Regions from separate parts of the Homo sapiens genome. Here all the other regions are linked to region 2. Evidence: fine-mapped expression QTL. A gene starts in region 2. Each other region holds a variant in brackets. All regions are shown on one strand. Distances are between the middles of the regions.

The links.
Region 1: its variant is fine-mapped to the expression of MYLK-AS1 in unexposed skin (GTEx, PIP 0.95).
Region 3: its variant is fine-mapped to the expression of MYLK-AS1 in lung (TOPMed, PIP above 0.99). The same link has a PIP of 0.9 or more in cerebral cortex, hippocampus and whole blood.

Annotation. Positions count from the first base shown.
Region 1 is chr3:123,658,361-123,666,538 of GRCh38, reverse strand. MYLK (myosin light chain kinase) reads left to right here. Exons shown (of 34, transcript NM_053025.4): 22 at 193-320; 23 at 2,281-2,434. It overlaps LOC124909421 (a long non-coding RNA gene), which reads right to left. Exons shown (of 2, transcript XR_007096038.1): 2 at 5,040-7,670. Among named protein-coding and RNA genes, the nearest start is that of MYLK-AS2, 27 kb to the left of the region's middle. The variant G/A (reference allele first, on the strand shown) is at 4,605.
Region 2 is chr3:123,581,909-123,590,086 of GRCh38, reverse strand. MYLK-AS1 (MYLK antisense RNA 1) reads right to left here and starts at 4,574. Exons shown (of 4, transcript NR_121654.1): 1 at 4,534-4,574; 2 at 4,286-4,440. It overlaps HACD2 (3-hydroxyacyl-CoA dehydratase 2), which reads left to right and starts at 5,034. Exons shown (of 7, transcript NM_198402.5): 1 at 5,034-5,214; 2 at 7,758-7,875. The coding sequence starts at 5,060. RefSeq lists an enhancer at 4,550-4,849 and silencers at 4,910-5,519, 5,530-5,709.
Region 3 is chr3:123,627,111-123,635,288 of GRCh38, reverse strand. It overlaps MYLK (myosin light chain kinase), which reads left to right. Exons shown (of 34, transcript NM_053025.4): 30 at 5,663-5,815. MYLK-AS1 (MYLK antisense RNA 1) reads right to left here. Exons shown (of 4, transcript NR_121654.1): 3 at 5,608-5,795; 4 at 4,468-4,793. Among named protein-coding and RNA genes, the nearest start is that of MYLK-AS1, 46 kb to the right of the region's middle. RefSeq lists an enhancer at 5,066-6,265. The variant C/T (reference allele first, on the strand shown) is at 4,645.

The sequences.
Region 1 (8,178 bases), 76 kb before region 2:
GAAGAGGTGAACAAACCTAGCAGGTCCATGAACTTGGATGTCCTGCAGCAGGATCACTGCCCCTCAGTCTTACCCTGAAGGTTCCGGAAGCCAAGAGAGAAGCCAACAGACCACTGTGGACAATGGCGTCGAATGTGATCAGAATGCCTGAGACCCTTCTGCCTCGCTCACTTTCTCCCTGTCCTCCCTCAGCAATGCCCCCTCAGATCATCCAGTTCCCTGAGGACCAGAAGGTACGCGCAGGAGAGTCAGTGGAGCTGTTTGGCAAAGTGACAGGCACTCAGCCCATCACCTGTACCTGGATGAAGTTCCGAAAGCAGGTCAGTGACGGTATGGGGTGGGCACTGGGGGTGCTGGGAATAATCCGTACAGCCTTTGGACCGAAAGGGATGAGAAATGCCGTGCTGGAGATGGCCTCACTCTTCGTAGCTTTAGAAATGGGAGAGGCCACTCCCCTACCCATCGCTCACCTGCCAAACCTGAGTTCTTGTTAACCTTTGCTTCTGAATCTACCAATAATCCCCGCCTTTGTAGACAATTTGTGTAATAGAAGTGTGAGGGGAAAAGTAGAAACCATCCATGTCCCTCATCTGGTTTGATAGCACAGTCTAGAATCCTATTCAGAGTCAGGAAAGTCGAGCCTGTGACCCAAGATGACCCTTAGACTCCATGAGCTTGCTGTGATTCTGTGCCAGCCCACTGATTCCTGTCTGTTATAACCACTTAAACTTGCCACATGCTGAAGGGACAAAAGCAAATGTGAGTATTTGGATAGAAGAATTGTATGATAAATAGAATTGTGTCTGACTGACCCAGAAATCTAGCTACAATTTATCATAATGGTTCCTATGGAACAATGTTTGAATTTCTAGACAACCAGCATTGAAAGGACTTGGGGAGCCCAGCAGCTCCACCAATCCACGGTGGTAGTGTGTGCCTGTATGCATGATCAGCAGAGACCCTGGAATGATGGGTTGGCACAGGAGTGGGAAGTTGTGAAGATTTATTCTGAGCCCTCTGTTACTCTGTTTTAAAATCACTCAAATTCTCCTAGCCCCAGAGATGAACACTTAGTACTAACAGGGAGGAAAGTAGGGTTGGTCTCAAAAGATGGAAATGAGAAGTTTGCCTTTAGCATCCCAGAGCATGTTTGCCCTGAGCGACATCTGGACTACTGTTGTCTGAAATAAGATGGAATCTCATCACTTTTCAGAGACATTTAGCCAAGTCCCAGCTCTGTCCTTCAGAACTTTCTGCCCTGATGAAAGTGTTATCTCTGTGCTATCCAATATGGCAGCCACCAGCCATATACATGGGGCTATTGAGCACTTGAAATGTGGCTAGTGCAACTGAGGAACTGAATATTTAATTTTAATTAATTAAAAATTGTTATAGCAGCTTTGTTAAGATATAATTCATATGCCATAAAATTCACCCTCTTGAAGTGTACACTTCAGTGGTTTTCAGTAGATTCACAAGGTTGTGCAAGCATCACCATTATCTAATTCTAGAATACTTTCATCATCCCAGTAAGAAACCCCAGACCCATTAGCAGACATTCCTCTCCTTCCCCCAGGCCCTGACAACCACTCATCTACTCTCAGTATTTATGGATTTGCATATTCTGGACATTTCATATCAATGGAATCATACAGTATGTCATTCTCTCTGTGTAGCTTTCTCTTTTTTTGACTTAGCATACTCTTTTCAGGGCTCATTCTTATTGTAACATGAATCAGTACTTCATTCCTTTCAATGAATTAATAATAAATATTCCATTGTCAGGATAGACCATATTTTGTTTATTTGTTCATCAGTTGATGGACATCTGGGTTGTTTCCACTTAACTAATTAAAATTTAAATAGCCACATGTGACTAGTGGCTACAGCATTGGACAGCACAGAAGAGGCTAGAACCCACTGGAGTGGATCTTGTGAATGACTTTGCTGAGATGTGTTCTCCTATCATCCCATTCCAGAGAGGTAGAGGGAGACCAGGATATTTCTGGGAGCAGTGAGTGCTCAGCTAGTTCATCCATCCATCCTGCCCCTGCTCCACACCCTCCCTGCCCACCCCAGACCTGGCACCCTCAGGGAAGCTGGACTCTGGATGTAGGAGAGAAGGGGCCTCAGGGAGAAGGGCAGAGTCCAGACCAGACTGAGCCCCCCCACAGCTTGTCCAGCTGCATCCTTCAGGAAGTAGGGAATGGGGAGGAGCCCCCTTCCTTTCCTAGCCCAGGGGCCCAAGGCTCCAGCACCTGCTCCATCCTCCGCCCCTAGATCCAGGAAAGCGAGCACATGAAGGTGGAGAACAGCGAGAATGGCAGCAAGCTCACCATCCTGGCCGCGCGCCAGGAGCACTGCGGCTGCTACACACTGCTGGTGGAGAACAAGCTGGGCAGCAGGCAGGCCCAGGTCAACCTCACTGTCGTGGGTGAGTCTGGTGGCTGGGTGGCATGGAGCTTGGGGCAAGGGGAAGGCAGGGAGCCCCCAGGCAAGATACGTGGGCCTCAGGACTTCATCACCCATTATCTCTCACCACTCCTGTGCCTGATTTATAAGGCACCACAGAAAGAAGATCACGGCAACCCACAGACTCCCTGCTAGACCCTGCTGACCTCCAGGCTCAGCAGAGGGGCCAAGGCTGGGCAGAAATCCTTTTCCCTGTCTCTATCAACACCTCTCTGTGATAGCTGTTCCTGGAGTTCCCCGCCCTCAGGCCTTGGCATCTAGCTTATTTGAGAAATAAGAGACATGAGGCATAAACTTGGTCAACTTCTTGGCCCCTACGCCACAGGTGTCTGTATCTGTCCCCATCCTGACTCCACCCTCCAGGCTCTGGGGATGGCCCACCTTGGTCCCACCAAAGGCTGCTCCCTTCTCCTGTGCTCTGGACCCCAGGTCCTTGGGGGCTCCACCATCCCTACTTCTCTCTTCAACCTCTTCCTCTCTCCTGGCTCCTCCCAGCAGCCCGTAAGTGTCGCCATCTTAGCCAGATGCACAGGCATTAATAACTCCTGCAATGTTCTCTCTCACTCTAGCCACCCTACCTTCTCTCTCTGACAGGGGTGAGTCTCTACTGCACTTCCGCTTCTTCACCCCCCAGCACCCTCCAGCTGCCTATGGCCTCACCCCCACGCCCCATTAGTCTGCAGGGACTGTTCTTCTGAGGTCACCATGACCTCCCAATCCTGACTCCACTCGATTTTCCTTACCTTCATACCAGGATTTCCTTCATCCCAGGATTGAGTGGGGTCTGTCTCCAGACTGATTCTCAAGTTCACTTTTCCTCTCCTCCCTTAACACTGTCTTCGTGCCCTGGTCAGCTCTCTCCTGGAGCATCAAGAGAGTTTTCTAACCAGTCTCCCGCTGTTGTCATGTTCTGCTCCAGTTGTTCCCCGTGTGGCAGGTGCTTGGGACAGCAGAAGAATGAGCAGGCAGAGGAGCAGACAGAGAGAGAGAGTAGACTCTATGCCTCATGCATTTGTGGGCCTTCATATGTTGTGCATGTGAAAGCCTTTGACCTGGCATTTATTGATATGTGCACGAGACCCGAGCGGGTTTTCCATTTGTCCTTGGCTTTCAAGCTTATAGGGTACATTTGTGAAAATTAGAAAAAGGGGCCTTGCTGGGCAGAGTGAAAAGGGTACAGCACCCCCAGCCTCACCCCAGAACTCATGACCTGGCCTTGGGGAGGACAGGTTGGCCCAGATGCCCCCACTAGACCCCTTTTATGCAGTGCACAAAACTCTCAGCTGTGTGTGCTGATCCCAACCTTAACTTCCTGCAAACTAGCCTTTCCTGTGTGTTCCTGGTGCACACACACGTGGGCACACAGAACAAAAGGATCTGTTGGTAACAGGGCTTGTGTGGCTACCGTGGTTAGAAGTCTTCCACTGGAATCTCTCTTATGGAAGTATCTAGATATGAAGTTAGAAGTTGTAGACATTGACTCTTAAGGTCTCTTGTAGCTCTGACATTCTATGATTCCCCAACTCTATTCTCTGACATTCTGATTCCTCGACTCTATTCTCTGACATTCTATGGTTCCTCACCTCTGTTCTCTGGTGGTCTGTGATTCCTTGACTTTGTTCTCTGACATTCTGTGATTCCCTGACTTAGTTCTCAAGCAGTTTTTCTCCCCTATCTTCATCTCGTATCATCACCTTAGGACTAGGATGGACAGGACTGATGTTTCCAGCCTTATGCAGGAGAAACTGAGGCCTAATCTGAACAAAGTAACATAGTGCATCAGAGGCTAAGTGGGAACTAGCTCTAAACTTTCAAACACTTGTCCTCCAGTGCCACTCATGGGAGTGTGAAGTAGGTACAGAATGTCCCAAAAGGTAAAGGAACACTCTGGCTGCAAAACTCATCTTGAGGGGAGACATGCAAGCCTTTTGGGGAGCTGTCCACATGCCAGAGAGTTGTTGATGTCTGTGCCTCCATTTTTCTCATGCTGAGCCTTAGGAAGCCCTGTAGCACTTCCCTTCAGCCCCTAAGCAGCTGGGGAAGAAGAAGTCCTTGTCCAACCAGGTGAATAAGGAAGACACGAGGATAAAGGTCAAAGTAATACAGAGCTGGGAAGACAAATGAGGTGGCCA[G/A]TGAGCTATGCCCATGCCAGCTACCAGAACAGACCACAGGTTCCACACCCTGGCCCGACTCCCCAGAGAGGAAGTACTGCAAAGCCCCCTGGAAGATTGTCCCTGGACACAGGGGACCCGGGAGAGGGAATTCACAGAGGACTGAGCTCCAGCATCCACTCCCCACCCCCAGTTGTCCATATTTCTGTTTACCTTCTCTCTTGCTCTGTTCCTCTCCCTGGCCTTGTTTCTTTACCCTGTGTTCTGTTTCAGCCATTTCTCAGTGTCCGTCACCCTGTCCCATGTCCCCTCTTTTCCCTTTGTCTTCCTTCCTCTGACCCTGTTCTTTTGTTTCTTTTGGTTAGAAGTTTCAGATCGGGGAAGACTGGTGTACAAAGGGGTCAGGGAATGGGTTTTTCATTTCTAAAGGAGAAGAACAACCCTTTTCTCACTCTGTCTCTTTTTGGTGACTCCAGGTGTTTATTTGAATAATTTCCTCCCAAGGAGTCAGGAACCTGTGGAGGCTTGGTGCTAGTGATCCACTTTACTGGTACATTTAGATCTGTTCTGAAGCACTGATTTGGCCCTGTACTCCCGTCCTATCAGCAAGCATCAGTTTAAACTTTTCTTTGATGTTCTCTCTCATCTGCTCCTCCTTAAGCAACTTTGGGGTCAGCTTCTTTGAACTGCTTTTCTACAGAAAAGCTCTCCCTCCCCCCAGCCCCCACGATGCCCAGCTCCTGCGCAGTGCCACGCACTCCCCTCCTCCGATCACCACTACGCGGGCTGCAGTTCTGGCCTTTTATGGTTTAGTTTCTTATTCTCTGCAGCCAGTGCTGACAGGGCCATTGGCGTGGCTGTCTGCCAGCTGGCAGGAGCAGCATGTTAAATGCCGTCCTGGGAGGGGAATGGAATGGAGGAGAACCGAGGCTTTCTGTCTGCCTCCCCCTCAAAGAACTAAGAATAGAATTGCTCAATAAAATAGGACTCACATTGATGGATACAGCAAAGCCACATTCATTCAGAGCCTGTACACTTAGAATTAGTTCAAAGTAAACCTGGATGAAGCTCAGATTTACCTGTGCATCTTCAGGGACATCTCTGTATTCCCTGATCAGGGTTTATTAAGCAGATGTAAAATGTACATGAGGTAAAACAGGAATCACTTGGTCTGCTCCGGACAGTTTTCATGCATTTACAGACCAGCTAAATAAGGCCAGTTTAATACAACTCCTCCTTGTTAGCAGCAAACTTCTCTTATTGTATATTCTTTAAAGGGCCACTTTCTTTTCAGATCCTCTCTGGCTCCTATTTTTCAAACAATAATAAAAACTAGCCTTTCCCTCTGTTAGCTTAAATGAGTGATATTTAGCTATTTTGGAGACTTATTATTATTATATTTTAAAAGGCAGCCCAGGAATTTGCAATGCTCAGAGCCTCTTCCTGCACATGCGCCCCTGGTCTTGGCCTGTGGGGAATAAGGGAGGGGACAGTGAGCAGCATACCCAGATGGATTCCTTAAGGTCACTCACCCAGCACGAGAAAAGCAGGTCTCTTTTCATATCTTTAAAGGAGAAAAACAAAGTAGAGAGAACCCCAAATACCCAATAATCCCCAAATACTAACTGAGTTTGGAGCTTGCATGATTTCCCATCTTAATGCTCAGCTCAGGCTTAAGCAAGATGCCTTCTTGAGCTCATTCTGCCTGATAGCCTGGAAAGTCTTGAGCCCTGGAGCGAGGGTCCAGAGGCTTTTTGGAATCTCCTTTTGGCTCTGCCACTGACTACTGGGTTTTCTTGATAAGCAAAATGCCTTAGCTGCTGAGGACCCATTTCCCAAGGGCTAGGATTATCCAGGTAGATGACATGTGGGGGCCCTTCCAGCAGCTGCTGAAGTCCCAGGGAAGGGACATCCAGGTGGGGCTAGGCATAGCCACTGGTCATCTTCAAATAAGCGAGGACCAAGAGACCTCAAGAGCAGTTACTCTAGTGGGAAGCTGTAGGACAGGATCCTCCATTTTCCTGGAAATTAGAACATTTGCTGAGGAGAAAATCCTGGAGCTGGTGCCACTGGAGACTCTTGTCTTAGACTGAGCTGAGTTTCCTATTCTGTTAGTCAAGCCTCCAGGGAGCCCTGGGAGAATTCAGAGGAAATGTGGAGTCTCCTTTGCCCAGAGATGCCCAGGGTCTCCCTCCCAGTCTGAGTGTGTCGCCGTGGAGGACAAGCTCACAGGAGCTCCCTGTTCTAAGGACATCTGTTCTTTTCTGAGAGTTTTCATCCCTTTACTAGTTCAGCCACTGCATGGGGCTCATAGCTTAGAAAGAACAGAAAGCATTAGGTGCAGCCCACAGCTCTAAAGGCAGGTGGAGGAGTGGGAGGCCTCCAATCTCCTAGGACTTCTGACTTGGGTCTTTTCTGAACTCCTTAATTTGGTAGCAAATTCCTTAAAAATGTTGGAGTTTTACTTGGAATTAAAGTCCCTCGCCCCAAATTTTGCATCTTCTCTTGTGTGACAAGTCTTACGTATCACATATGTCATGTATAGGTTCTCATTTTCAGCCAAGAGACATGTGTAACAGGGTAGGGTACAAATGGCACCTCTTCTGCAACACCCATTTCTCAGTTTTCTTTTCTTGACCAAAGCAGAAGGAAGATCAGTTGGCAGAGTGCATTCGTTTATAAGCCCACACAACTCCAACTGTGGCCAATCACATGGTCTCCAGGCAGTCTTCTCTGGGAGGAATAGTGGGTCTGTCTTCCATCCCTCTTCAGGTTTTTTTACTTCCTTAGCTGGGTCTTGAGAGGACTTGAACCACTTGTCTTTAAGAGAGTTTAGAGTAATAAACATCTTAGCCAAAACCAGAAATGTTTCAAAAAAGGCCAATATATCTCTCAGAACAAACAGTTTTTCTAAGAGAACATATTAAACAGCCAGTGAAAGTGCTTCCATCACAGGAGGCCTCTGGCATGACTGCCAGCACTGGGAAGTGGCTCTGTCACAATCCCAGAATCATTCCCAGGGCTTTGGTTATTGGGGTAGACAGTTTCTGGGCAGTGCATTCTGGGCTGGAATGTGGATCGGCAGGGCTGGGAGAGGGGACAAGAATGAATATGAGTATGAGTATATATACTCATATACACATGTATATACATGCAGATTTTTCTTCTCCATATACACAGGGTCATTTGCAGCCATTGCCTTTGGCCTTCCTGCCTTGCTGGAGGTGGGAGAGTAGCGGTCAAGTACTTTATCTATGTTTGCTTACTTGATGCTTGCAAAAACCCTAAGAGGTAGGAACATATTAGCACCATTCTCTGAATGAGAAAGCCAGGCAAACAAACCAGTTTCAAATTTGCTGGGGTTGACATAGCTTAAAAGCATGGTTTCAATTGCTAGTTTGTGAGGCTTCATGAAATCAAACAGCATTGGGGGAGATGAAGGGTTAATGAACACAACACAGATATCTGTAACTAACCAACCATCTGCAAAAACTAAATCTGAAAAATAGGAGAGTTTTGCTCAGATAAGCAACTAATAAAATCAGCAAAACTCAAGAGCCTCATTAAAGTATTGGCTACCATGATTTGACTTGAA
Region 2 (8,178 bases):
GGGCAGAGGAAGGTAGTAGACACGAACAAGGTTGTATGTGGAAAAGATCACTTTGGCTGTACTGTAGAGCAGGGGTCCCCAACCTCTGGGCCACAGACTGGTACAGGTCCATGGCCTGTTAGGAACCCAGCCACACAGCAGGAGGTGAGCAGCAGGCAAGTGAGCATTACCACCTGATCTCCACCTCCTGCCAGACCAACAGCGGCATTAGATTCTCATAGGAACACGAGCCCTATCATGAACCATGCAGGCGAGGGATCTAGGTTGCAGGCTCCATCTAATGCCTGCTGATCTGAAGTGAAACAGTTTCATCCTGAAACCATTCCCTCCCCAGTCCATGGAAAAATTGTCTTCCATGAAACCAGTCCCTGGTGCCAAAAAGGTTGGAGATTGCTGCTATAAACAACAGACTGGAGTTGGGCCTAAGTGACTGCAAGAAGATACATTGAGTTTTAAACTGATTTCCAACTGAACAGAACTTTATGCATTCCTGCCTCCTCCTACTTTCCCATTAAGTAGATTATATTGAAAAAAAAATCAGTCAAATGAATGAAAGAAGCTTTTAGATGAATGATTATTTGGTTTTGTAAAATGGTTCACTTCTTTATTTCTTTTGCAAAGAAATTTTTTTGCCCTCTGATCACAGTGTGCAATTTGGGCTCACCAACTTGCTCTTTGAAAAATTCAGGAAGGTCGGGTGTGGTGGTTCATGCCTATAATCCCAGCATTTTGGGAGGCCGAGGCAGGTGGATCACCTGAGGTCACGAGTTCGAAACCAGCCTGGCCAACATGGCAAAATCCCGTCTCTACTAAACATACAAAAATTAGCTGGGCGTGGGGGCAGGCACCTGTAATCCCAGCTACTTGGAAGGCTGAGGCAGGAGAATTGCTTGAACCTGGGAGGCGGAGGTTGCAGTGAGCCAAGAGTGTGCCATTGCACTCCAGTCTGGGGGACAAGAGCAAGACTTCGTCTCCAAAAAAAAAAAATTTCAGGAAAACAAGGCAACAGAATCTCTGAACAATCTGCCATGGCGGGAAAGGATGGGACCCTGACAATTGTCAACTTATGCCTCTCACTTCATCTCTTGAGGTCTTGAAACTTCTTTTGCAAAAATTGTAACAGTGAGAAAATTATGACTGAGAGAGATCTGATCTAACCAGCCCCCACCTTGACTCTGTAAATCAAAGAACACGATCAAGGCAAGTCTCAATCATTTTAGGAGGTTTATTTGCCATAGTAAAGGATGCATGCCAGGGAGGCAGGTATATGCCTATCTCCAAAGATGATTTTGAGGGCTTCAGTACTTAAAGGGGAAAGGGTGGATACTGGGGGAAGAGAAATTTTTTTTTTTTTTTGAGACAGAGTCTCGCTCTGTCACCAGGCTGGAGTGCAGCGGCGCAATCTCGGCTCACTGCAACCTCCAACTCCAAGCGATTCTCTTGCCTCAGTCTCCCAAGTAGCTGGGACTACAGGCGCGCACCACCACACCCAGCTAATTTTTGTATTTTTAGTAAAGATGGGGTTTCACCATACTGGCCAGGCTGGTCTCAAACTCCTGACCTCCTGATCTGCCTGCCTGGCCTCCCAAAGTGCTGGGATTACAGGCGTGAGCCACCACGCCCAGCCAAGAAATATTTTTAAATTGTGTCAGTAGATAAAAAGATAAAACAGTTGCATCCTTTTGAATACACAATTTTCATGTGAGTGGGGAGTGGAGGAAATATTCATGCCTTAGTCTGGCTCAGTTAATCTGTATTTTTACATAAGATAACGTAGACAATAGGGCAGAGGAAGCAATCAGATATGCATTTGTCTCAGGTGAGGAGAGGGAAGACTTTGAATTCTGTCCTATGTCCCATACCTGTGAAGATATCAACTTACATTGCCAGGTTGAAATTCAACAGAACTGTTTTAGAGTAAAGATCTTTGGGCCTAAAAGGAATTTCCTTGTGGGTAAAATGTGAGGGAAGTATATAGCTTTTATCTTTGTAGCTATCTTATTTAGGAACCAAATGGGAGGCAGGTTTGTGTGACCCAGTTCCCAGCTTGACTTTTCCCTTTGGCTCAGTGAATCTGGGGTTTTCCTTTCTCATCTTTAACCTCCAAAACTGCCCTTGGTCATTCCTGGGCTTGCACCAAGCTAACTTTGGGAGAAACTTAGTTTACAGTTTAAGCGATAATAGCCCCTCCCCAAAACTAAACCACTTTTGTAAAACTAATGAAAAGCCACCAGGTTAGAAGGATAAGAGGAGCTTGAATTCTGCTAAGACATAGGCTTTGTTAAGTTAAATGATTACCAGCCACTATTCCAGAGGTCACTAGATTTGCAGCTTCCCCAGTTCACTACTGTAGAACCTAAGATTGGCCTTTTGAGATAAACTTTCAGGCTTCTGCATTTCGGATGGCTGACGACCCCACTGAGACCTTTGACTCTTGGCTCAACCAGTCCTGTGGCCTCCACCCAGAAGCAGGCTCAGTGCAGGGGGACCATTTTCCACACCCCTATAATTGCATTCCCAACCAATCAGCAGCACCCATTCCTCCAGCCTCCTGCCTGCCAAACTGTGTGTGTGTTGGGGGGGGGGTGGGTGTTTTGTTTTGTTTTGTTTTGACTATAGCTCTCAGATCTTAGCCAAACTATTCTTGAAAAACCCTACCCTCTGAATTTTGGGGGAGATTTGGAGTAATAACTCCATCTCCAAGACCTATCTCATGTCAATTAAATTCTTTATTGCAATGCCATGGTCTCTATGAATTGATTTTGTCTGTGCAGTGGGAAGGAAGAACGTATTGGGTGATTACAGTGTCATGGATTTAAATACCACCACCACCCTCAGAACTCTGAGAAAAGATAATACCTCAAACAGCTCTGAGCTGTCTGAGCTATGTGAAGTATGCAAAAATTTATCAGGCCCAGAGACAAGAGTTTGCCTGGGGGCAACTGTTTAGACATTTTGTTCCTGACTAGCAGCCTCACCCATTATCTTCATGTTCCTGGAATCTGTGATACAAAGAATAGTTTATAGCCAATCAATAGCTAATGTAATTTTAATGTAAATTCTTAGTAAACAACTTAGAAGCTGCCTCTTTTTCCTTTAAAAACCCACTCATAACCGCTGCTAATCAGAGTGTATATTTAGGGTAACTTGAATCTATGCTCCCAGGTAGCCATCTTCAACCTTTATGCTTGAATAAACTTCCTTTAAACTAGATTCTTACCTTTTTTATTATTTTAGGTTGACAACTCTCAAATTTATATCTCTAGCCCATTGGACTTCCTTCCCGAACCTCAGGGTCTAAATTTAATTGTCTATCCAGCCTCTCCACTTGGATGTTTAATAAGGATTTCAAATTCAACATATAAAAAACAAAATTCCCGACTTCCGCCTTAAAAATGGTTTCTTACAAGTTGCTCAAAACGCCTTTGACCTCACACTCCAAAACTAACATATCCACAAATCTTATAATTCTACTTCTAAAATACGCACAGAATTCATTGTTGTTTTCATCACCTCGATTTCCACCACTCTGGCCCACACCACTATCACCATGGCTGGATTATTGTAATAACTTCCTGATACCACTTTTCACCAACTAATACGAGCATTTTCGTCTGGTTCCCTCAGGGGTCCTTAAGCCCCAGGCTGCGGATAGAACCAATCCCTGGCCTGTTAGGAACCAGGAGGCACAGCAGGAGGTGAGCAGCAAGCAAGGGAGCATTACCTCCTGAGCTCCGCCTCCCTCAGATCAGCGGTGGCATCAGATTCTCATAGGAGCGGGGAACCTATTGTGAACTGCGCATTGGAGGGATCTAAGTTGTGTGCTCCTTATGAGAATCTAATGATAAATGTAATGCCTTTGAATCATCCTGAAACCATCATCCACCCCCCCACCACGAAACCGGTCCCTGTTGACCAAAAGGTTGGGGGCCGCTGCTCTATATAATCCCTGGGAGACTGACGACTTTGTCTCTTTCACTTAGTGCCATGAACTCCAGGGCAACTTTGTGGACGCTCCATAAACACTTGCTGGAATGAACCCATAAATATTTTATACTACCACATATACAGTAATACATTTAAGGAGCTGCTTGGGTGTGTAAAAAATTGCAGGGGACGTTTACAAATAAAGAACCTCCTGAAACAAAGCAATGAATGGAAAGTGGGATCAGCTGGTTGAAGCAATGCCCACAAGCTGCTCCAGCTTCCCAAAGCAGAGAGGTTTTCCACCTAAGCCAACATCCTTTTATTTTTAGTCACTATAGCTATAAATCTACTCCCTTACCCCGCACCTCACTCTCAGCCGACAGCCCAATGGGCTTATCCTCCTCTCGCCCTCACGATGAGCGAGTCCACGCGGTCTCAGGCTGGAAGATGCACTTGAACACCAGCCAAGCACTCACGGACGACACTGGATTCTAGGCCGCCTGGGCTTCTCCACTGTACTAGGAATGTAAAATCAAAAGTCAGAAAGAAAACTTCGGAGGTGGAATCTCCAACCCGGCAACGGGTTAGGAAGCAAAGCGCACCTACCAAAGGGCTGGTCCCTGCAGCCTCAAGGGCTGATGGGAAGTGAATCCACCGTCAACCGCCCTGATCCAAAATGGCAGGATACCGGAGCAATAGTGTTCAGGTGTGAAGATAGGGCAATTGAAGAAGGGAGAACGAAAGCATAATTGTTTTGATTCAACATGGAAGCAGTGATTATAGGAGGGCGAATAGCGAGGGACGACGCAACATCCAGCTGGCAGAAGCAGCGGGCCTGGAGAGGGTGGCTACATTGAACTAATCCAAGATGGCGCCGAGGTTGTAACCGGGAGCGCCCAAGAGGCGGGAATTACCCTGATCCAAGATGGCAGTGGCAACTGAGGCAAGCCGAAAGACGGGAGCGCCAGGAGCGTCTTTGCCCTCAGCCAAGATGGCGGCTGCCGTGGACCCTGTCCCGGCTCCGCCCCGCGGCCCTGGCCCCGCCTGCCCCTCGTCCCTTCCTCCGCCCCCTCTCCTCGCGTAGTCCGGCCCGAGCCGCTCGCGCTAGGAGAGCGGGCTTCGGGCACTTGACATGGCGGCAGTGGCGGCGACTGCAGCAGCGAAGGGGAATGGGGGCGGCGGTGGCAGGGCCGGGGCCGGGGACGCCAGCGGCACGCGGAAGAAGAAGGGCCCGGGGCCCCTGGCCACGGCGTACCTGGTCATCTACAATGTGGTGATGACAGCCGGGTGAGGCTGGGGCTCGGGGAGGCGGGGAGCCAGCGCGGCCGGGGAGGGAGCCCTGCGGCCAGCGGCGGGGCGGATAGGATCGGCGCGGCCCGCCGCAGGCAGTGCATTCCCGGCGGGGGGTGCCCGGGACCCGGTACCTGGGCGCTGAGGGCGGCCGAGCGCTGAATCGGCCCCGGTGGCTGCCCGCGAGCTCCCTCCTGCGCTGGGGGTCGAGCCAAGTTCCCAGGCACTGGGGCGCGGGGACGGCTGCCGGGCGCTGGCTCGCGAGGGCCGCGGGAGGAAAGGTGGGGCTGGCCACAGGTGCGGGGCCGGGGGCAGCGGCCGGACTACCTGCGGCGCGGAGCCCGTCCTGGGCGGCCAGATTCGGATGTTGAACGGCGCCAGCATGGGGAGTGGAGGAGCTGTGGCTGCAGAGTGACCATTCATTTGGGCGGCTGTTTTCAAAATCTGGGCTGCGCTTTAATCTGAAAGGTATTGGGAAAGCGTTCAAAGTTTTTGGCCAGCGACATGAGCAGAGCTAGGCTTTAGATGAGTTTAGACTTTTAGGATGGGTTGGGGTGGGGAAGAAACTGGGGAGTAGAAGGCAGAGTTACTGGAAAGGGGGAGAATGGACCCTCGAAACGGTTTTACCCATCTTCTGTCTCTTTCATTTCAGTGCATCCCTTATCCCGGCGGGTTTTTAGTTCAAGCTCTGCCACTAACTAGCTGTGTGACTTTGGATAAATCATCTTATTTCTCTAGCCTCCGTTTTTTCATTTGTAAAACTAAAGGGTTGGTCTGGGTGATGAAGGTTCCTTCAGCTCTGCAATTCTTTATCTTGTCATTTTGGTGAGGAGGATCACAGCATCAGACAGTTATATATTTTTAAGTTATCTTCATTTGTAATTTTTTAAGAAGTCCTAACATTTTATTATGAAAAATTTCAAACATACAGAAGAGTTGAAAGAATTGTATAGTGAACATCCATTTTTATTTAAAGTAGGTGATACATTGTTAGGGTTAAAAATGAAAAACATGAGGGAATACAGTGAAAATCTTTCCTCCCACCTTTCCCTTCTACCCAGCTCCCCTCCCTCGAGGCAGTTAATTTTGTGTATCCTTAAGATGCTGATGCAAGCAAATATGTTTATACATCCCCCTATCCCTTTTTAAAATAAGACAAATGCCAATATATTAATATTTTTACAGTTCAGCACCTTGCTTTTTTTTCACGAAGAAGAAAATATATCGTGGGAGGATCATATATGTATTGCTAGTATTAGAAATGGTAGGTGTTGGAACCTAGGCTCAGAGAAGTTGTGACTTGCATGAGATCATAGAACTTGTTAGTAGAAGTTCCAGATCTAGAAATCATTTCTCTTGACTCACAGGTCAATGAAGAACTAGTACAGATACAAGCTTTATATCACATCAGTGGTCACATAGATTGATTTTTAAAAAAACATCCAGGAATCTCACTGTGTGTATTAATATTTATATATAAAATTCTTGTTGTCTTAGCAAGAGCCGGTGAGGGCATTGGACTGGAGAGGGATTTTGAGGTACATTGGTAAGAAGAAAGAAGTCTATTCCTGAGCAATGAACATAGAGAATGGGGTGGAGGGTAAGGAGTGGTATCTTAAACCAGGAAGATAAATTGGGATTGTGAGAGCAAAGTAAGCTTTTTTTTTAAGGCTGTTAATGGTTGTACCAGTTACACCATTAAATAATTTCTTCTTTTACAAACTCTTACTTGATGTCCTTATGTGATAGTTTTTGGAAATAGCATAGACCACACACACCCCATTGCCTAGTTGATACTATACATTTATCTAAATCCTTCCAGGAGACATACCTTAATAAAAAGGTCCATTTGTTTTATTATGGAACTTAACAAAACATTGTGTTTATTTTTGAGAAGGACAGTGGAACAAAAATATAACATTCACAGCTGTATGCTTAAGTGCTTTCCTGTTTCGTGGTTTGTATTGATCTGGCTTTCATTTCTGCATTGATTTTAGGAAATTTGGCTAAAAAACTTTTTTTTTTTAGCAAGAGCCCTTTATTCGTAATTTTAAAAGGATAGATTTTAAGGTATGGGTAATTGTTCCAGTGAGACAATTATAACAATAGTTTAAAGCATCTTCTTTCCACCCTGTAATTATTAAAAACCCTTTAACTGCACAGGCTGTTTAAAATTTTCCTTTAACTGTTTTTTTCTCGTCTTAGATTTTCTTGGCACCTGATTTAGTGGCACAAGGACCATTTTAGCTTATTCCTTTCCTTTTGGCCTTGATCTCAATAGCAAAGTTGCCAAAAAAATGAGCTCCAGATGGGTGAGGTGCCACTATGCTTTCACTGAGCCCTCTTGGTAAGGTGCTGTCGGTGTTGCAACATTTCAGTGCATTACAGCTTGGCATTTGAGAGCTATCGTCCATAAATCCAGGTTACTCATGCTTGAGGTCACCTTTAGCAATATCTTTTATTGCCACAGCTGTGTGTTAACCTAAATGCTACTTTTTTTATTTTTATTTTTTCCTGATTGCTGTTTTCTCTTTTACTAGGTGGCTGGTTATAGCGGTTGGTCTGGTCCGAGCATACCTGGCTAAGGGTAGCTACCATAGCCTTTATTATTCAATTGAAAAGCCTTTGAAATTCTTTCAAACTGGAGCCTTATTGGAGGTAGGTCCTGAGATTTATTGTTGTTATTGATTTCCATTGGTATGAAGAAAAACATGCAACTAAATTATATTGAAGTAGCATACCCCCTTTGGATTCATGTTAAATTTTGAAATTTTGCCTCCTCACATACTAAAGTGTTGATACCTAGGCTTTTTGATGTTCTAGATTGGGTAGAATCTCATTTAACTTAGGTTACCTTGAATGTATTTTATATTCGACTTTTTTGGGAAATCAACTGAAGCAAGCTTATATTAGGATTTTTAAAAATTCTAGGGACATCCTGGGGAAGCACTGGCAAAATCA
Region 3 (8,178 bases), 45 kb before region 2:
TGGAGCCACTGCTGGGAGCACCCAAAAGAGGCTCTCTGGTGGCCCTCATGGCATCCTCTGGCCCACTCTATCCCTCTCTTTGGAGCCTAGTCATCTGTCGGGCAGTCCCTGTCAGGGCGACTTCCACCTTTGTACCACAGAGCCCCTCCTGTTCTCCTTTCTGGGGCCAGTGAGAGATGGAGAGGCCAGGGAGTTGGAAGGGAAGGCAACAGACCGTGTCACCATAGGACGATGTGACTTTACTCTCTCCCACCCAGCCCAGCCATCAGGGCAGTTTCTGGCCCTATAGGGAAGGAGCAGAATGGGGTCGTGGAGCCCCCACACTCTTACCCCGGATCCTGAAAGGAGATAGTAGGTTGTGTGAGTACCTAGAGACCTTCTGAAGTTAGCAATACCCATGTGGTTTCTGGCAGGAAGTGAGAATACCAGAGAGCTGGAGGCCACACTTCCATACGGGAGAAATCCTAAGTCCACCTCCGTTTAAGAGCCCTCCTCCCCCTGCTGTCTCCCTCCCCTACTTCCTGGACTTGGTACTTCCTTGCTGCCTGTGGGGAGGCCACAACAGCTCTTCTCCGAGCCCTTCCCTCACCCTACTCCACAATGCCTTCTCTCCCAGCCTCCCTCAAGCCAGAGCGAACCAGCAATGGCTGCTCTGCTTCCTCCTCCTGCCTCTTCCTGACCAGGCCCAGCAGCACAGCCTTCCCATTCATGCTTGTTTGTTTGTCCAACACCCACCGTGGTGCAGACAGCTGTCAGCTGTCCCTCCCCACCCTGGTGTGTGGTCGGGAGATGCCAGGAGGGAGGAGAGGTGTGTATGGTGGGGAGGCAGGTCAGCTCTTCTGGTGACAGCTGCCCAGTCAGCTGAGGAGGGGTCACAGTGCCGGGGCATCGGGGGCCTCCTCAGACCAGGGTCTGACTGCAGGGCTCCTCAGCCAGATCCAGTAACCTCTGCCTTCCCCACCTGGGGCTGCCGCTGCCCTCTCTGCTGCTGAGCCTGGAAATACGCTCTGATTCCAGCCCTAGGATCCCTGTTCCCTCTCCAAGCCCGGCCACCACCTTCAACTTTTACTAACACAACTAAACCCCAGGTCGCTGCTTCCTCGGCCAGTCCACAAAATGATGCACAGCTCTTCCTGTGGACCTACTCAGCCCTCTCAGCTCTCCCACCAGAGTATCAGATGGCTAATATGGATAAAAGACTAACCCCTTCCTAGCAGTCAGTAGTTCCATCAGCAGATGTGTGGTCCCCTTAGCTGGCCACTGGTACAGTCGGGGCATCTGTCTGCTGCTTGAAACACAACACAGAAGCCAGGTGCAGTAGTGTGCACCTGTGGTCCCAGCTACTCAGGAGGCTATGATGGGAGGATCACTTGAGATCAGGAGTTCAAGACCAGCCTGGCTGATATAGCGAGACCCCCATTTCTTAAAACCCACACACATACACGCACACACACACACAGAAAGTGTAGTCCAAGAGGCATTTCTGCACCCTCTGCTCTCCTAACCTTCTGCCCCCACAGCCAAACAGGCTTCCACATCAGATTCCCTGGGGGAATTTCTTTGGCAATGAGCTGAGAATTAAGAAATTAGAATGCCCTGCATTCATGACCATTGTGTTTCATCAGCACAAAGACTAATATTTGACCACTAAAAATCAACATGTAGAGTCTGGCTGTACTTGATACATCCAGTGAAGAAAAAGTAAAGCATCCAAGGACTTGCCCAGACTGATTATAGTTTTGTGAAAAACAGATCAATCCATTAGTTAAAAACTAGATAAGACCAGGGAGATAAAGAGGTGTTTTAATGCTAACATTATTTGTTGACCGGTTGATTTTTTTAACAAATAATGACTGTTATCTAGCTGGGCGCAGTGGCTCATGCTTATACTCCCAGCCCTTTGGGAGGCCAAGGTGAGTGGATGGCCTGAGCCCAGGAGTTTGAGACCAGCCTGGGCAACATGGCAAAACCCCATCTCTGCAAGAAATACATAAGGTAGCTGGGCATGGTGGCGTGCGCCTGTGGTCCCTGCTACTTGGGTGGCTTAGGTGGGAGGGTCACCTAAGCCTGGGGAGGTTGAGGCTGCAATGAGCCATGATCACGCCACTGTATTCCAGCCTGGGTGACAGAGCGAGACTCTGTCTCAAAAAAATAAAAAGAAATAATAATAATGACTATTTTATAAATAAAAAGACAAGGCTGGGCACAGTGGCTCATGCCTGTAATGCACTTTGGGAGGCAGAGGTGGGAGGATTGCTTAAGCTCAGGAATTTGAGACTAGCCTGGGCAACATGGTGAAACCCCATCTCTACCAAAATACAAAAAATTAGCCAGGTGTGTTGGCGCGCACCTGTGGTTCCAGCTACTCAGGAGACTGAGGTGGAAGGATCGCTTGAGCCAGAGGTTCAGTGAGCTGAGATCGCACTACTGCACTCCAACCTGGGCAATAGAACAAGACCGCATCTCAAAAAAAAAAAAAAAAATTAAAAGACATGATCCCTTATGCAAATTCTGCCACAAAGAAAAAGTTCCCCAAAAAGGTTTTTAAAAATCCTGTAAAACCCCACCACCCAGCAACAGCATTACTGAAAATTCAAACACCCTCTTTGTCAACATGCTGTGTATGTATTATATTTTTTATTCCAGACACATGCTCTTTAATAGGAAGAATGCTGGGGGAACTTGGGCAGGCAAGGAGCCAGGCAGGGTGAGGAGAGTATTTCAGATGGATAGGCTGCCAGGAAGGAGGAGTGCCAGAGGCCAGAGGCGAGGAGGCTCTCCCTGACTGTGCCCAGAGTTGCAGAGATTAAGACCTATCTTTGCAGGATTATAGTTCCTAATAAGGAAGGGAGGTTTGCAGAAGGGGAACTTTCTGCATTCCACAGCAGGGTTGTTTGCTTTTCCTGCCATCTTTTGGAGTACTGCCGGACTTCCCCCCTCTCTGTTTCCAGTGGAAAATGTAAAGAAGCAGCAGGTGGCTGACAGGCAAGAGACAGGCTGCTTCCTGATGGGGCTTGCATGGGCCACGTGGGGGTCGGGGTCACAGAGACAGAGAGAGCTGGGAGGCCCCTAGGAAATCTAGCCTAGTCCCCTTGATGTATAAAAGGAGAAGCTGGCTAGGCGCGGTGGCTCATGCCTGTAATCCCAGCACTTTGGGAGGCCGAGGCAGGCAGATCACGACACGAGGTCAGGAGATCGAGACCATCCTGACGAACACTGTGAAACCCCGTCTCTACTAAAAATACAAAAAAAATAGCTGGGTGTGGTGGTGGGCACCTGTAGTCCCAGCTACTCGGGAGGCTGAGGCAGGAGAATGGCATGAACCCAGGGGGCAGAGCTTGCAGTGAGCAGAGATCGCACCACTGCACTCCAGCCTGGGCAACAGAGCAACACTCTGTCTCAAAAAAAAAAAAAAGAAAAAGGAGAAACTGAGGCCCAGAGAGGGGAAAGGAGCAGCAGATAACAGTGCAGACTCGGGGACAGGTAAATGCCCACCCTTCCCTCATGGGGACATGACCGAGAATGATTCTCTTTGCCTTCTTAAAACATAAATCAGGGTCTTGCTTTAAAAAAAAATCCCATCCACAAAGATCTATTATTCAGAAACACAAATATGTTGATTAGGATGAGACAATTCACATTGTAAAAGCTTTCTTCTCTTTACAAAAGGTTTCACCAGAGGGTTCCTCCCATGGCAAGCTTTTTCTCCCAATATTTCAAGTGGGGTTTGTTCTGTCAAACTCAACCAAAGCCTTACTCCTGAAGCTGTCAGTGCTTGGCTTATGATGATGGATTCATAAGCATTTGGGAGAAGGGACATTGGTAAAGCCCTAACTTGACAGGTTGATGGCAGGAGGGCCCCAGACCCATCTCTCTTTTTTTTTTTTTTTTTGAGATTGAGTTTCGCTTGTTGCCCAGGTTGGAGTGCAATGGTGCGATATTGGCTCACTGCAACCTCCACCTCCAGGGTTCAAGCAATTCTCCTGCCTCAGCCTCCCGAGTAGCTGGGATTACAGGTGCTTGCCACCATGCCCAGCTAATTTTTGTATTTTTAGTAGAGACAGGACTTCACCGTGTTGGCCAGGCTAGCCTCAAACTCCTGACCTCAGGTGATCCATCCATTTTGGCCTCCCAAAGTGCTGGGATTACAGGCATGAGCCACCACGCCTGGCCCCCAGACCCATCTCATGGGGCTCAGCTGAGATCAGGGCAGGAACAGCTACACAATTTGCAACATGAAAGGTGGGGCCACTTGTTCAAACCTTATTGAGAATCTTGAGACGACAGCAGCAGAGCATTAAACCAAGCACAGGGCCTGTCTAAGGGTGGGACTGTGGGCAACTGTGCTGGTCTAACACCCATGAGGCTGACTCACAAGGCCCTCATGAACAGTGGGGTGAGTTGTTGCTATGAAGGTGAGGTGCACAGAGGTGAGAGGTAAGGTCAGTAAGCCACAAATCTGCTCTATTTTGTTTTGAAATTCTTTACCTTATAAAGTTTATTTGGCTTAAGCTGCTGGTCACAAAGTCATTCCTGCACTCACAGCTTGGTAAGGCAGTGGAGGGAACCCAGCAGAACTGCATGAGATCTCCGGGCATGGACCGCCTCCTTACTGTGGACCAGGCCTGGTGCCAGTGCTGAACA[C/T]TGCAATTTACTTCATCTTTACAGAAATGTTAGGATAGTATAGCATTTAAGAGGACAGGCTCTAGAGGCAGATACCTGGCTTCCAATCTCACTGGCTGTGAATCTTTGGGCAGGTGACTTGAGCCTGGGCTGTGCCTCAATTCCCTCATCTGTAAAACAAAGTTATAAGAATTACTTGCATCATAGGGCAGTGTTAAGATTAAGTGAGTTCACTTGTTTTAGGCACTTGACCCAGTGCCTGGCACATAGAAAAACCTCAATGAATGTCTGCTGCCATCATGATGATGATGAGGATGAAGAAGTGACCACCCTATAGTTAAATGGCAGCTTCTCCATTTTAGAGGAGAAAACTGACACAGATCAGGGAATTGTCCAAGGCCATACAGCAAGCGGAGAGGCTGCACTCTGTCCTCTGCCATGGCACCTCATAGGGAAGTTTTCTAGTTTGGCATAAATGCCTCAAGTTCCCCGAACCTACATTGCTGATTCAAAGTCCATCTATCCATTGGGCACACACTTCACTTGCTGAGCCTCTCTTATTTGCCGGGCCCTCTTCTTGGAGCTGAAGGTGTGTGGAGAGAGGTGGGAAGGAGGGGACAGAAGGGTGCAGTGGTGATCACTACCATGTGCCCAGTCCACAGAGAGGGGGCAGGAGCACGGGAGGAAGGGGCTTGGAGAAGGCTCTAGCCTGGGCTTTGGGGAATAATAGAAAACCAGGACAGAGGGACTTATCAGCCCTGCCGCGTACCCTGCAGAAGCCCGTAATCTAAAGCCAACCTGCTGCACCTCAGCCTCACAGGTAGGTGGTGTCAAGAGGCAGGTGACCAAGAAAAGACAGGGCTGTGAACCACACCCTCTTTTCTTTCCACAAGTGGAAGAAAGGCAGGTGCAAGGCCCACAGAGCATGAGTTTGGGGGTGGGGAGGCTGGCCGACCCTCGCCTTTGACCTCAGTTACCACTCACCTGGTCGTCGCGCCCTCTCCTAGCCACACCTGCTGTCCTGCTCTTGTCTCTCCAGAGTCAGTGGCCTTTCCCCCTTCATGGGAGACAACGATAACGAAACCTTGGCCAACGTTACCTCAGCCACCTGGGACTTCGACGACGAGGCATTCGATGAGATCTCCGACGATGCCAAGGATTTCATCAGCAATCTGCTGAAGAAAGATATGAAGTAATGAGTTGGGATTTCAGTCTTTGCTTCCCTACTCCCTGCCCTGTGTTGGGAAGCAAAGGGGGATTCCTTTGCCTGTTGGGGTGCCCTCCTTGCCACCCCGCCTTGGGTCGTTCCTAGCATTCCCTGAGGAAGGGAGGGTGGGCATGGTAAGAGACCCGAATGCATGTGGGTTGGGGAGGCGACTTCCTAGGCCCTGCCCCCTGGAGCTAGACATGGGATTCACCTTCAGAGGCTCAGACACCTGACTTGAAAAGCGACACTTGACCACGTTACAGAGCAAGGGGCAGCTGTTCTGTGTGAATAATGACCACCCTTCTTATTTTCTGGGTACAGTTGTGGCCAGCCACAGCCCTCTTCAGGGGCTGCAGGGGAAGGACCCTCTCAACAAGCAAGAGCAGAGGACACGGGCATCTTAGAACTTCTCTGTGGGTCCCGATCATATCCCCAGATTATTATTATTATTCTGGCTTAGTGTTTTTTTATATCTCAGTTATTTAATAACTGCCTGCTTGAATACAGCCAGGTACGTTCTAACATCTGGCCAAAGGGAGGCTATGATCCCAGACCACTGGGCTTAGCCCTCTCCCAGCTCCTCCTCTGTTGAGGTTCCCCACCTGTGCCTGCTGCAGCTGTGAACATAGGAAAGTGAACAGTGGGAGGTCAGCATGCATGGGCTGTGGGGAAAGGTCAGGCACTCAAGCCCTCTGGGTTTCAGTAGAAGATTGGAGCTTGGAGTTGTAGAGGAGACCAGAGTGGGAGGTTGGCTGAAGGTGGGCAGTGGGTGTGCCTAGACAGAATCTCCTGGAAGGAACTGTCCTGGGCTCTGCATGTGTAGGGAGAGCTGCCCAGGGAAAGGGAGCAGTGGGACTCAGGTGAGAACAGCTGGCCTATTGGGCAGCTCACCCACTCTGCAAATAGGTGACTAGATGAGGCAGGGCCTGACTGTAGGGGTGCCGAGGAGCTTGGAGCTATACTTGGCAATCCCAGGGAGCAGTTGTAGCCTTGCCAAGAAGGGTGGTGTTGACATGGGTGGCGTGCTAGAGAGAAGGGGAGGGGCCTGGCTCCAGGGCGGGCAGGAGGCTCTGCACTCCCAGGTGACTTTGCAGCCTTGCGGGGCTGCCGATGGCTCCCCTGAGGAAGAATGGCTGTTCGGGGCAGGAAGGCACAGTTAGTTGCTGAAGGAGCAATATTGGAGTGTCTCAGATGGCTCTGTCAGGCTTTCCTGTGATGCACCCCACTCTCAGTCCTTTTTAGCCAGTTCAGGGCCAAACTCCCCCAGAGGCCACATTCTACACTCCTTGACAATGAGATCTTTTTAGCCTTTTGCTGTCACAGTCTGTATCAGAAATGGGCATGACCCAAGGAGAACTGAGATACTGTGGGAAGTCTAAATTCTCTTCCAATATGAGGGACCCCCACACCCAAGGTGCCTCAGGAGATGGAAACCTCCTCAGTAACTCTGGTACAAGGATGGCTTTTGTCATCCAAGCTTTATTCACTGAAGATTTGGTAAACAAGGTATTGTGTGTGTATATATCTTATTTTCTCATCTGACCTTGAATTAAGTCAGTAACAGGCTGTACTGGATCCCTCTGTGCTCATAAAATGGATTCACCAAAGAACTGATCTTATTCAAATAGATCAAGACACTAAATTCCCATAAACTCTTATACCCAGCCTCTCTTCAACCAGAAATCACCACCTATCAGCACTTAAAAAAAAAATTCCTTCCTACTATAAAAATAATGCATGAAAATTATAGAGGATTTGAAGAATATAATAAAATTTAAATCATCTATAATCCCTTTATCTAAAGTTCACTACATTTTGCTATACTTCTTTCCAGTCATTTTTCTATGTATGTTAGCATTTGGTTCTTTAGGCTTTCCTAGTCCTGTTACAGTTAAGGCAATGGCTCTAAAATGTTTCTAGATCCCCAGAGCTTTCAGAAAGATGAAGTGAGTTTCAGCGCAGTTCTAAAGTAGTCATAATTCATAGGTTATAGGCAGGACCTACTTCTTTGAGTTGTAATGGAAAAACCTGATATTCAACAACACCGTAAGACATTAAACATGAAAGTTCAGTGATTGTCGGAGATTTTATCCTAGGATTTAACTCTCCCCTCCTCCAGACAGGGTGGCAGGAGGATTAGGCTTTGTGGGCCCCAGCCCTCATGAGAGGAGCAGAATGACGCCACCCTGGAATAGGGTGCCAGCCAATCCCAGAAACGTCTGCCCTGCAGCACTTACTCTTCCTCGATCCCAAGAGCAGGCCATGGAGCCCAGTCACTTCCTTGGTGCTTGGGCTTTCATTAACACCAACCCATGCTGGTTCTGGTTAGTGTGACCCAGACCAAGTGA